Linked DNA regions of Homo sapiens. The protein of the gene in region 2 purifies or fractionates together with the protein of the main gene of each other region. This does not show direct contact. Each region holds a gene or a part of one and is shown on either strand. Other genes may lie near its edges.

Region 1 (4,496 bases), on a different chromosome or scaffold from region 2:
TGCTAAACCTTGGTCTCAATATATTGTTCTTCTAAAATGCCACTGGATGAGCTGCGCATGGTGGCTCACGTCTGTAATCCCAGCACTCTGCGAGGCCAAGGTGGGAGGATCACCTGAGGCCAGGAGTTCAAGACCAAACTGGGCAACATAGTGAGAACTCATCTCTACAAAAATTTTATAAAATTAGTTGAGTATGGTGGCATAAGCCTGCAGTCCTAGCTACTTAGGAGGTTGTGGAGGGAGCACTGCCTGAGCCCAGGCATTCGTTACGGTGAGCTACGGCAGAGCAAGATCCTGTCTCTTAAAAAACTTTTTAAAATGGCACTGGATTAAAATTTTATATAGTATTTTCTTTTTACTTTTAATTTCATAAGCAAGATTTGTAGTTTGTGTGTGTGTGTGCTATCTTTGTTGGACTTTGGTTTCATAGTTATGCTAACTTTTTAATATATGCTGGAACATTTTCCAATTTTTTAAGTCTAGAACACTTTATATGGTACTGAAGTTACCTGTTTCAGTTTTGTTTTTTGTTTTTGTTTTTTTGTTTTTTTGCTTTTTTCTAAGAGACAAGGTCTCACTCTGTAACCCAGGCTAGAGTGCAGTGGTGCAATCATAGCTTACTAAAGCCTCAAACTCCTGGGTTCAAGTGATCCTCCTACCTCAGCCTCCTGAGGAGCTGGGACTGACTACAGGTGTGCACCACCACACCTGGCTAATTTTTTTTTATTTCTTAGGGACGAGTCTTACTATGTTGCCCAGGCTGGTCCTGAACTCTTGGCCTCGAGAGATCCTGCTGCCTCAACCTCCCAAGTAGCTAAGATTATGGGTGTAAGCCACCACACCCTGCTCAGGTAATTTTCTAAACCAGACACTCTTAAATATGCAAAACATCAGTAACTTCAAATGTTTTATCGTAACATTATTTTCTCCATTCTTAAATAAGTGTCTCCAATTCTGTGTTCAATACTTTCTAGCTTTGACGGTTAAAAATTTAAAACCTTTTAACTATAATATACAAATTATGCTTTAAAATGTGCTGATTCCTAAACAAAGCAAGTTTGAATTTATAACGTTGCCAAAGTTGTTTTCCAGAAATTTTACAGCCCAAACTATACTGAGACAATAATATATCACTGTAAAATACAGTATTATCCATGTCTCAACAATAGTCTCAATAGCATTTTATTAAAAGTGCAGCTATATTAAAAACAAAACATGTGTTTAATATTACCCATTTATGGCTATGTTTCTTTTTTCAACTAGATTTTAGTTCACCACAGTTAGAAACATGAAGCCTTTGCACGGTACTGTTAAATTCCATTATTGCTTATTGATCAATAATTACCATTCATTTTATTTCTGGTATATATTACTCCCAGATCTGCTGGAATGGAGTCAAAGCCGCTGCTTCCAATGATATAAACCCCTTTGTCTGCAGCTTTCTCATGATACTTCAGTTGCATTAGTTCCAGAAACTAAAAAATCCAGGATAAGAATTTTAATTAGTTATGCAGAAAGATGTAGACCAGTATTAAATAATTTATCTTTAAAAACAAAGCAACCAAACTTTGAAAATGCTAAGCAGTGTGGCTCTGCAGCAAAACATTAACTGTCAAAATATTTTCCACTTATTCGGCAAATACAGCGCCTACTGCACACCAGGTGGTACAGAAGTTGTGCTCGTCTGACTGTATGACACTTAATTTTTTTAGAATGACTTTTAAATATAAAAGTAATGCCTATTATAAAATATTAAAATATAAAAAATAGAAAGCAAAAAAAAAATGACCCCAAACAGCATTACCCAGATGAACATCATCACAGACATAAAGCTCCGCACACGTACAGACAGAGAGCAGGAAAGTAGATGGTGGCAGAGGGCACAGGGGAATAATGTCTGCTCTGCTCTTCTGCCTGTTTTTAGAAATTCCTTTTTAAAAACAGTTTAAGATTTACAGAAAAATTGAATAGTAGAGAGTTCCCAAGTACTCTGAAACCCAGTTTTCTCTATTTTTAACATCTTTTACATGAACAGTGGTTACAATTAATGAACCAGTACTGACATATATGATTTAATTCACTAAAGTTCACAGTTCATTCTGATTCCCTTAGTTTTAACTGAACCCCTTTTTCTGCTCCAGGATCCCATCCAGGATTACATTCGGTTGTTACGTCTCCTTCGGCTTCTTTTGGCTGCGACGGTTTCTCACACTTTCCTTGTCTCTGATGACCTTGATGGTTTTGAGGAGTACTGGTCAGGCATTTTGTAGAGTGCCCCTCTACTGGAATTTGTCTCATGCTTTTCTCATTATTATTATGAGTTTTGGAAAGAGACCACAGGGGTAAAGTGCTATTCTTATCATATCATATCACATCGGGGCTACGCACTGTCAACATGATTTACCAGGGTTAATGCTGACTTGAACACCTGGCTGAGGCAGTGTTCACCAGGTTTCTCCACTGTCAATTTATGCTCCCTCTCCCAGAAGGTGACACACAAACACAATCACACCTGTTCAAGCACATACCAGACACAAACACACACCACACACACCCATTCATGCACATACACAAACACACACGAACACAATCACACACACACACTTGCTCATGCACACACAAACACATTAAGTCACACTAACATAGTCACACACATACAAACACATTAACACACTCAGTCACACACACAGCTGCTTGCACATAAATGTGGAGAAGCTACATAAATCATTTGGAATTCTTCCACAAAGAAGATTTGTCTCTTCTCATCCCTGCCTTTTTGGTTTTGTTTTGTTTTGAGACGGAGTCTCGCACTGTTGCCCGGGCTGGAGTGCGATGGTGCAGACTCGGCTCACTGCAACCTCCACCTCGCGGGTTCAAGCGATTCTGCTGCCTCAGCTTCCCGAGTAGCTGGGTTTACAGCACCTGCCACCACGCCCAGCTAATTTTCTATTTTTAGTGGAGACAGGGTTTCTCCATGTTGGTCAGGCTGGTCTCAAACTCCTGACCTCAGGTGATCCACGTGCCTCGGCCTCCCAAAGTGCTAGGATTACATCCCCTGCCCATTTTTAAAATAAATTGTCTTTATTTCTATTATTGTCTTGTAAAAGTTCTTTAAATACTCTGGGTTTTTTTTTTTTGAGACGGAGTCCCACTCTGTCGCCAGGCTGGAGTGCAGTGGCATGATCTTGGCTCATTGCAACCTCCGACTCCCAGGTTCAAGCGATTCTCTTGCCTCAGCCTCCCAAGTAGCTGGGACTACAGGCGTGCACCACCACGCCCAGCTAACTTTTGTATTTTTAATAGAGATGGGGTTTCACCATGTTGGCCAAGATGGTCTCGATCTCTTGACCTCGTGATCCGCCTGCCTCGGCCTCCCAAAGCACTGGGATTACAGGTGTGAGCCACCGCACCCAGCCCTCTGGTTCTTTAATAGGTTTGTTGTTGTTGTTTTGAGACAGGATCCGACCCTGTTGCCCAGGCTGGAGTGCAGTGGCGCAATCTTGGCTTACTGCAACCTCCAACTCCTGGGTTCAAGTGATTCTCATGCCTCAGCCTTCTGAGTAGCTGGGATTGCAGACGTGCACCACCATGCTTGGCTGATTTTTGTATTTTTAGTAGAGATGGGGTTTCGCCATGTTGGCCAGGCTGGCCTCAAACTCCTGGCCTCAAGTGATCCACCCACTTTGGCTTCCCAGAGTGCTGAGATTACAGGTATGAGCCAACGTGCCCAACTCCTTATTAGGTTTTGATATTATGGCTGGGCGTGGTGGCTCATGCCTGTAATCCCAGCATTCTGGGAGGCCGATGCAGGTGGATCACTTGAGGCCAGGAGTTCAAGACCAAGCTGGCCAACACGGTGAAACCCTGTCACTACTAAAAATACAAAAATTAGTCAGGTGTGGTGGTGTGCACCTGTACCCCCAGCTACTCAGGAGGTTGAGGCAGGAGAATCGCTTGAACCCAGGTGGCAGAGGTTACAGTGAGCCAAGATCGTAGCACTGCACTCCAGCCTGGGTGAGAGAGAGAGACCCTGTATCAAAAAAAAAGGGGGGGGTTCGATACTACTTTTATGATAGTTTCTAGATGACTTAAAAGCTTTTCACCATTTTCTATGTTCTGGGTTATTTAAAATAACATGGGAATTGTTTTTTGTTTTTGTTTTTTGGAGACAGGGTCTCACTATGTTGCCCAGGCTGGAGTGCAGTGGCATGATCATAGCTCATTGCAGCCTTGACCTCCCAGGCTCAAGTGATATTCCTGTCTCATTCTCCTGAGTAGGTGGGACCACAGGTGTGTGCTACCAACTCCTGGCTAATTTGTTAACTCACCAGCTCAAGTCATCCTCCCACCTAGCCTCCCAAAGTGCTGGGGTAACAGGCGTGAGCCACCTCGCCTGGGCTTTTTTTTTTTTTTAATTTGTTTCCTCCTTTTTGAATCAATTTTTGTAATTTACACTGTCTCAGTATTTTCCAGTATTTTACCAATTGATAAACTGC
Region 2 (5,001 bases):
ATTTGGCTCTAAATTAGGGAAAAATACAAAATAAACTGTTAAAACTGGAAAGTTATTTGAATGTTTAAGATCCTGTTTATTTACTTATGTTATTTTGTTTTAATCCACTGTGGCCCAAGGCATAGTCTCAAAAGGTCTTGAGAACATGTGCCCTCTCTTTTTTAAAATCCATTTAAGCTGTAGTTTTTTTAAACTACTTTTGAAAAAAAATGTATTTAAGAAGTAGTAGTGTACAATCGCATTCTAATTTGAGCATATTATATGACTTTTTATTTTAAATCCTGATAGATAACGTAGAATAAGTAATATAATGAAGCTTATGTTTTGGAAAATTAAGTCTATGATCCTTTATCCTACCAGAGTTAGGAAAACAATTAACATTCTTATTTATTTCAAATCTCACACACCAAAAAAAGAAAAACTATGATAAAATATGGTTTTAGCTATCTGACATACTAGACTCAGAAAGAGAAAGAGGTTAAAAACACACATACCACTTGGTTCCTAGTGGTGAAACTTTTGCTGATGCAGGTGTGTGCTAGTTCCTGGTCCATCTGGGCCATGTATGACTTGAGATTATCAAGTGTTCCTTTCAGGGAAGCCTCTTCGCCAGGTTCGTGTGTTTCAAAGTCCAAGTCATCATCACTATCTAAACATTCAAAGTCTTCATCATCCAGATCATCAGAATCTGACTCATTAGGCCTTGGCCCTACACAGATCCCAAGAAAGAAAGAGCCACTTAGTAATTATTATTATTATTATTATTATTATTATTATTTAGTTACTACACATCTCAAAATAATTAGAATGTTACCCACAGAAAAAGACTAATACACACAGTCAGTCTACTTCACAAAAATCCCTTCTACAAATGGTAATGCTGGCAGATATGTGTGCATTTAATGTTGTGGAAAAGCGTACAAGCTGAATCAAAAGATTTAGCTTAAAAAAAAGTGAATTCAATTAATTAAAATATTTTTCTTAAAAAATTTTTAAAAATACCTAATAAATGAATACATTTTGATGTAAACATTCAAGCCATACAAGTATTGTCTCCAATCTCACTCTCTCCCCAGAGGTAAGCATCTTTTAGCAGTTTCCGGGTATCCCAATCTTTCTCTCTGCAGTTCTGTACATATATACATATTATAATTATTTTTTGAGTTATCTTTTTATTACTGATTTGTAAGTACAGTAATTCCAAAAAAGAACAATATAATATGGGAGCCAAGGTAAAACCCTATTTAAACACACAGCATTCAGTCACTCTCAAATATTTAATGAGGCCGGGCACGGTGGCTCACGCCTGTAATCCCAGCACTTTGGTAGGCTGAGATGGGCGGATCATGAGGTCAGGAGATCGAGACCATCCTGGCTAACACGGTGAAACCCCGTCTCTACTAAAAATACAAAAAAATTAGCTGGGTGTGGTGGCAGGCGCCTGTAGTCCCAGTTACTCAGGAGGCTGAGGCAGAAGAATGGCATGAACCCAGGAGGCGGAGCTTGCAGTGAGCCGAGATCGTGCCACTGCACTCCAGCCTGGGCAACAGAGCGAGACACTGTCTCAAAAAAAAAAAAAAAAAATTAATGAGCAGCTACTATATATGTCAAACACTAAGCTAGGCAGCCTCTACAAAATTATTCATGGGTAGTAATTCATGGTTGAAAGCAACTCAAACCAGGAAGAGAAAGCAAACATTTTGGCTTCTGAGATATCTCATAAACCAATGCTCTAGCAACAGCCATACTACTAACAGTTTCAAAATGAAAGTCAACATCACACCACTACTTACCTAAAATCTTATCAAAATAATTAAGAAAAGAATCTGCATCAAAAGTGATTGGAGCCTCAGAAGGTTCTCTGCAATATTAAAGGACAAAGACAATTAATTTATTCTAAATACAACTCTTTGAAACTTTTCTAAAGTGGTGCCATTCTTAGGAAAGCTACCAAAGATAGAATTTCTAAGGAGGCACAGCAAGAAAAGTTGTAGTTTAAGTTTTAAAAATCCTTGAGTTTACTGGCCTTGCAGGACAACAGAAATGGGAAAGTCTGATAAATGAAAAGTAAAAATTGCATCTTGTTTATGTACATTTAGCTTATGCTGATTTAGGGACCTACCCACTCTCTAGCCCCAATAAGATATCTAGCATTAGCAAAACCATTATTTATTTGAGTTAATTTAAATAAAGCCTGTTCTTTTAAGAACTAAAGCTTAAAAAATAAACAAGAACATATCTTCCCTTATCCCTGCTTTCTTAAAGAGAGAATACCAAATATAAATTTATATCTTTCATCAGGTTCAAGAGCATCAACACTAATAATGATATATTTGATACACAAGTAACAGTTTTTTTTGTTTTGTTTTTTTTTTGAGACGGAGTCTTGCTCTGTCACCCAGGCTGCGGTGCAGTGGCACGATCCCAGCTCACTGCAACCTCTGCCTTCCGGGGTCAAGCGATTCTCCTGCCTCAGCCTTTCAAGTAGCTGGGATTATAGGCGTGCGCCACCATACCCGGCTAATTTTTGTATTTTTAGTAGAGATAGGGTTTCACCATGCTGGCCAGGCTGGTTTTGAACTCCTGACTTCGTGATCTGCCTGCCTCGGTCTCCCAAAGTACTGGGATTACAGGCATGAGCCACCGCGCCCAGCCTACAAGTAATAATTCTATCTACCTGTTTTTCCTGTTATTTGCCAAATGTAGTTTCATATTTCTGTTATTATTTCTGCCTCTGATGAATTCCTTTTTCAGTATCCAATCTGCTTGCAGGGTGGGAGATCAGAGGTCTGAACTTGTTGAAAGTTAAATGTTGAGCCCATAAAGCTACTAAAGAGTAAAGTATATGGTTTCCCTGTGTGGTTCTGGATGATGGTTTTTAGGGTGATCTTTCTGGCTTATTTCAAGGATTGCAAAGGATGAGGCTTCTAGAAATCTGACTTCAAATAAGTAAGTTATCACTATACTAGGCACAAAAAAGAAAGCAAGCAGTACAACTCATTTACTCAAAAAAAAAAAAAAAAAGTGGAAATGGCAATGACTATGACTTCAACATTTGGGTTCTAGCTATTTATATATTTATACTTTAACACAAATTACCGAGGCAGCTCTGCTCCCTTGTGGGTTGAGACTTTGGATATGAAAGCTTTCATGCTCTCTGAGACTTCAGTTAAGTCATAGTTCTGCTCCTTCTCCTCCTTGGAAACAGACTCGGATTCTTTTTTGCCAACAGCTTCCTGCAGCAGCTGGTCCAGCTGATCTGGTGAGAGATCTAACCACTGGTCATCTGAAAAAGAAGAAAGCATAATACTGCCATTCTACATTCACATAAGTCCTCTTAGGAGAGGATCCTGTGAGACTGAGTAGAACATTTTAATTTTTTTTTTTTAACCCTTCCACTGTATCCTGGTCCATCACTTACCATCCTCTGGGGGAAGATTAGCTGCTTCTTTCTTAAGGTCTTCTATATCAAATGGTATTGTCTGTAATAAGGTTAAGATTTCTTCACCAGGGCTCATAGCAAGAGAACTATGAAAAATAAAAAACATGAGTATTTCTTCATAAGAGAACATAGAATAGTAATCATAAATACATAGTATTTTAAGGTTGGAAGGGATTAGCTAGTCTAATTTGGGGAGTGTTTTTTTTTTTTTTTTTTAAGAGATGGGGTTTCATTGTTGCCCAGAATGGACTCGAACTCCTGGGTTCAAATGATCCTCCCACTTCATCCTCCCAAGTAGCCAGCACTACAAGTACATGCCAAAACACCTGGCTCTAATTTGTTTGTTTGTTTTTAACAGAGTTTCACTCTGTCGCCCAGGCTGGTGTGCAGTGGCGCGACCTCGGCTCACCACAACCTCCGCCTCCCAGGTTGAAGAGATTCTCCTGCCTCAACCTCCCAAGTAGCTGAGACTACAGGCATGCGCCACCACACCCAGCTAATTTTTGTATTTTTAGTAAAGATGGGGTTTCACCATATTGGCCAGGTTGGTCTCGAACTCCTGACCTCATAATCCCCCTGCCTTGGCCTCCCAAAGTGCTGGGATTACAGACATGAGCCACCGCACCCAGCCTTCTAATTTGTTTTTAAGCATATTTTTAGGTTGCAGATCCCTTTTTCTCAAACAAAACTTTTACCAGGAACTCTAAAATACAGAAGGGGTCAAAGAAAAATGGCCTTCATTAAAGTGGAGGATAGGCCAGGCACAGTGGCTCATGCCTGTAATCCCAGCACTTTGGGAGGCCAAGGCGGGGAGATCACTTGAGGTCAGGAGTTCACTTGGCCAACATGGTGAAACCCCGTCTCTACTAAAAATACAAAAATTAGCTGGGCATTGTGGCACGTGCCTGTAATCCCAGCTACTCGGGAGGCTGAGGCAGGAGAATTGCTTGAACCCGGGAGGTGGAGGTTGCAGTGAGCTGCCCCAGCATGGGCGACTGAGCAAGACTCCATCTCAATAAATAAATAAAATAAAATAAAATAAAAATAAATAAATTGGAGGATAGAAGCTCAGAGATCTACACAATTGGCCTTCCTTTTTGGCTCTGAAGCAGGCTCCATGGAACATCATTATGAAGCCACTGATCTCGTATAATTCTTTCTATACATACATGCAGAGACAGGGTCTCTCTCTATATATGTATATATATGTACATACAGTTGTATTATGTTAATAGTACATATACATATAAAACACGTACTAAAAATACATAAAAATATACATATAATATATATTTTATATACGAGGAAAAGAAGATCCAGAAGGAAAGCATCAATTAAAATTTATCTAGCATGTATTAAATGCTATGCTAACACTTTAAATACATTTTCTTATTGAGTCCTTTTGTTACTATTATAGAAGGTAATAATCCTGTTTTACAGATGAGAAAACCAGAACCCAGGGAAGTTCTTTAACTTTTGCAAAGTCTGTATTACCCAGGAGGCGGAGGTTGCAGTGAGCCAGGATTGTGCCATTGCACTCCAGGCTGGGCGACAAGAGC

The links. Proteins that work in one complex are often made in the same cells at the same time.
Region 1: the proteins of ECD (region 2) and SCCPDH purify together in Homo sapiens (co-immunoprecipitation; one large-scale study listed by IntAct). This does not show direct contact.

What each region holds. Positions count from the first base shown.
Region 1 is NC_000001.11:246,737,151-246,741,646, reverse strand, and holds part of SCCPDH (saccharopine dehydrogenase-like oxidoreductase), read right to left. Parts: intron 1,476-4,496; coding exon 1,346-1,475; intron 1-1,345.
Region 2 is NC_000010.11:73,136,210-73,141,210, forward strand, and holds part of ECD (protein ecdysoneless homolog), read right to left. Parts: intron 3,529-5,001; coding exon 3,422-3,528; intron 3,287-3,421; coding exon 3,100-3,286; intron 1,862-3,099; coding exon 1,794-1,861; intron 710-1,793; coding exon 495-709; intron 1-494. UniProt on the Homo sapiens protein: Regulator of p53/TP53 stability and function. Inhibits MDM2-mediated degradation of p53/TP53 possibly by cooperating in part with TXNIP. May be involved transcriptional regulation. In vitro has intrinsic transactivation activity enhanced by EP300.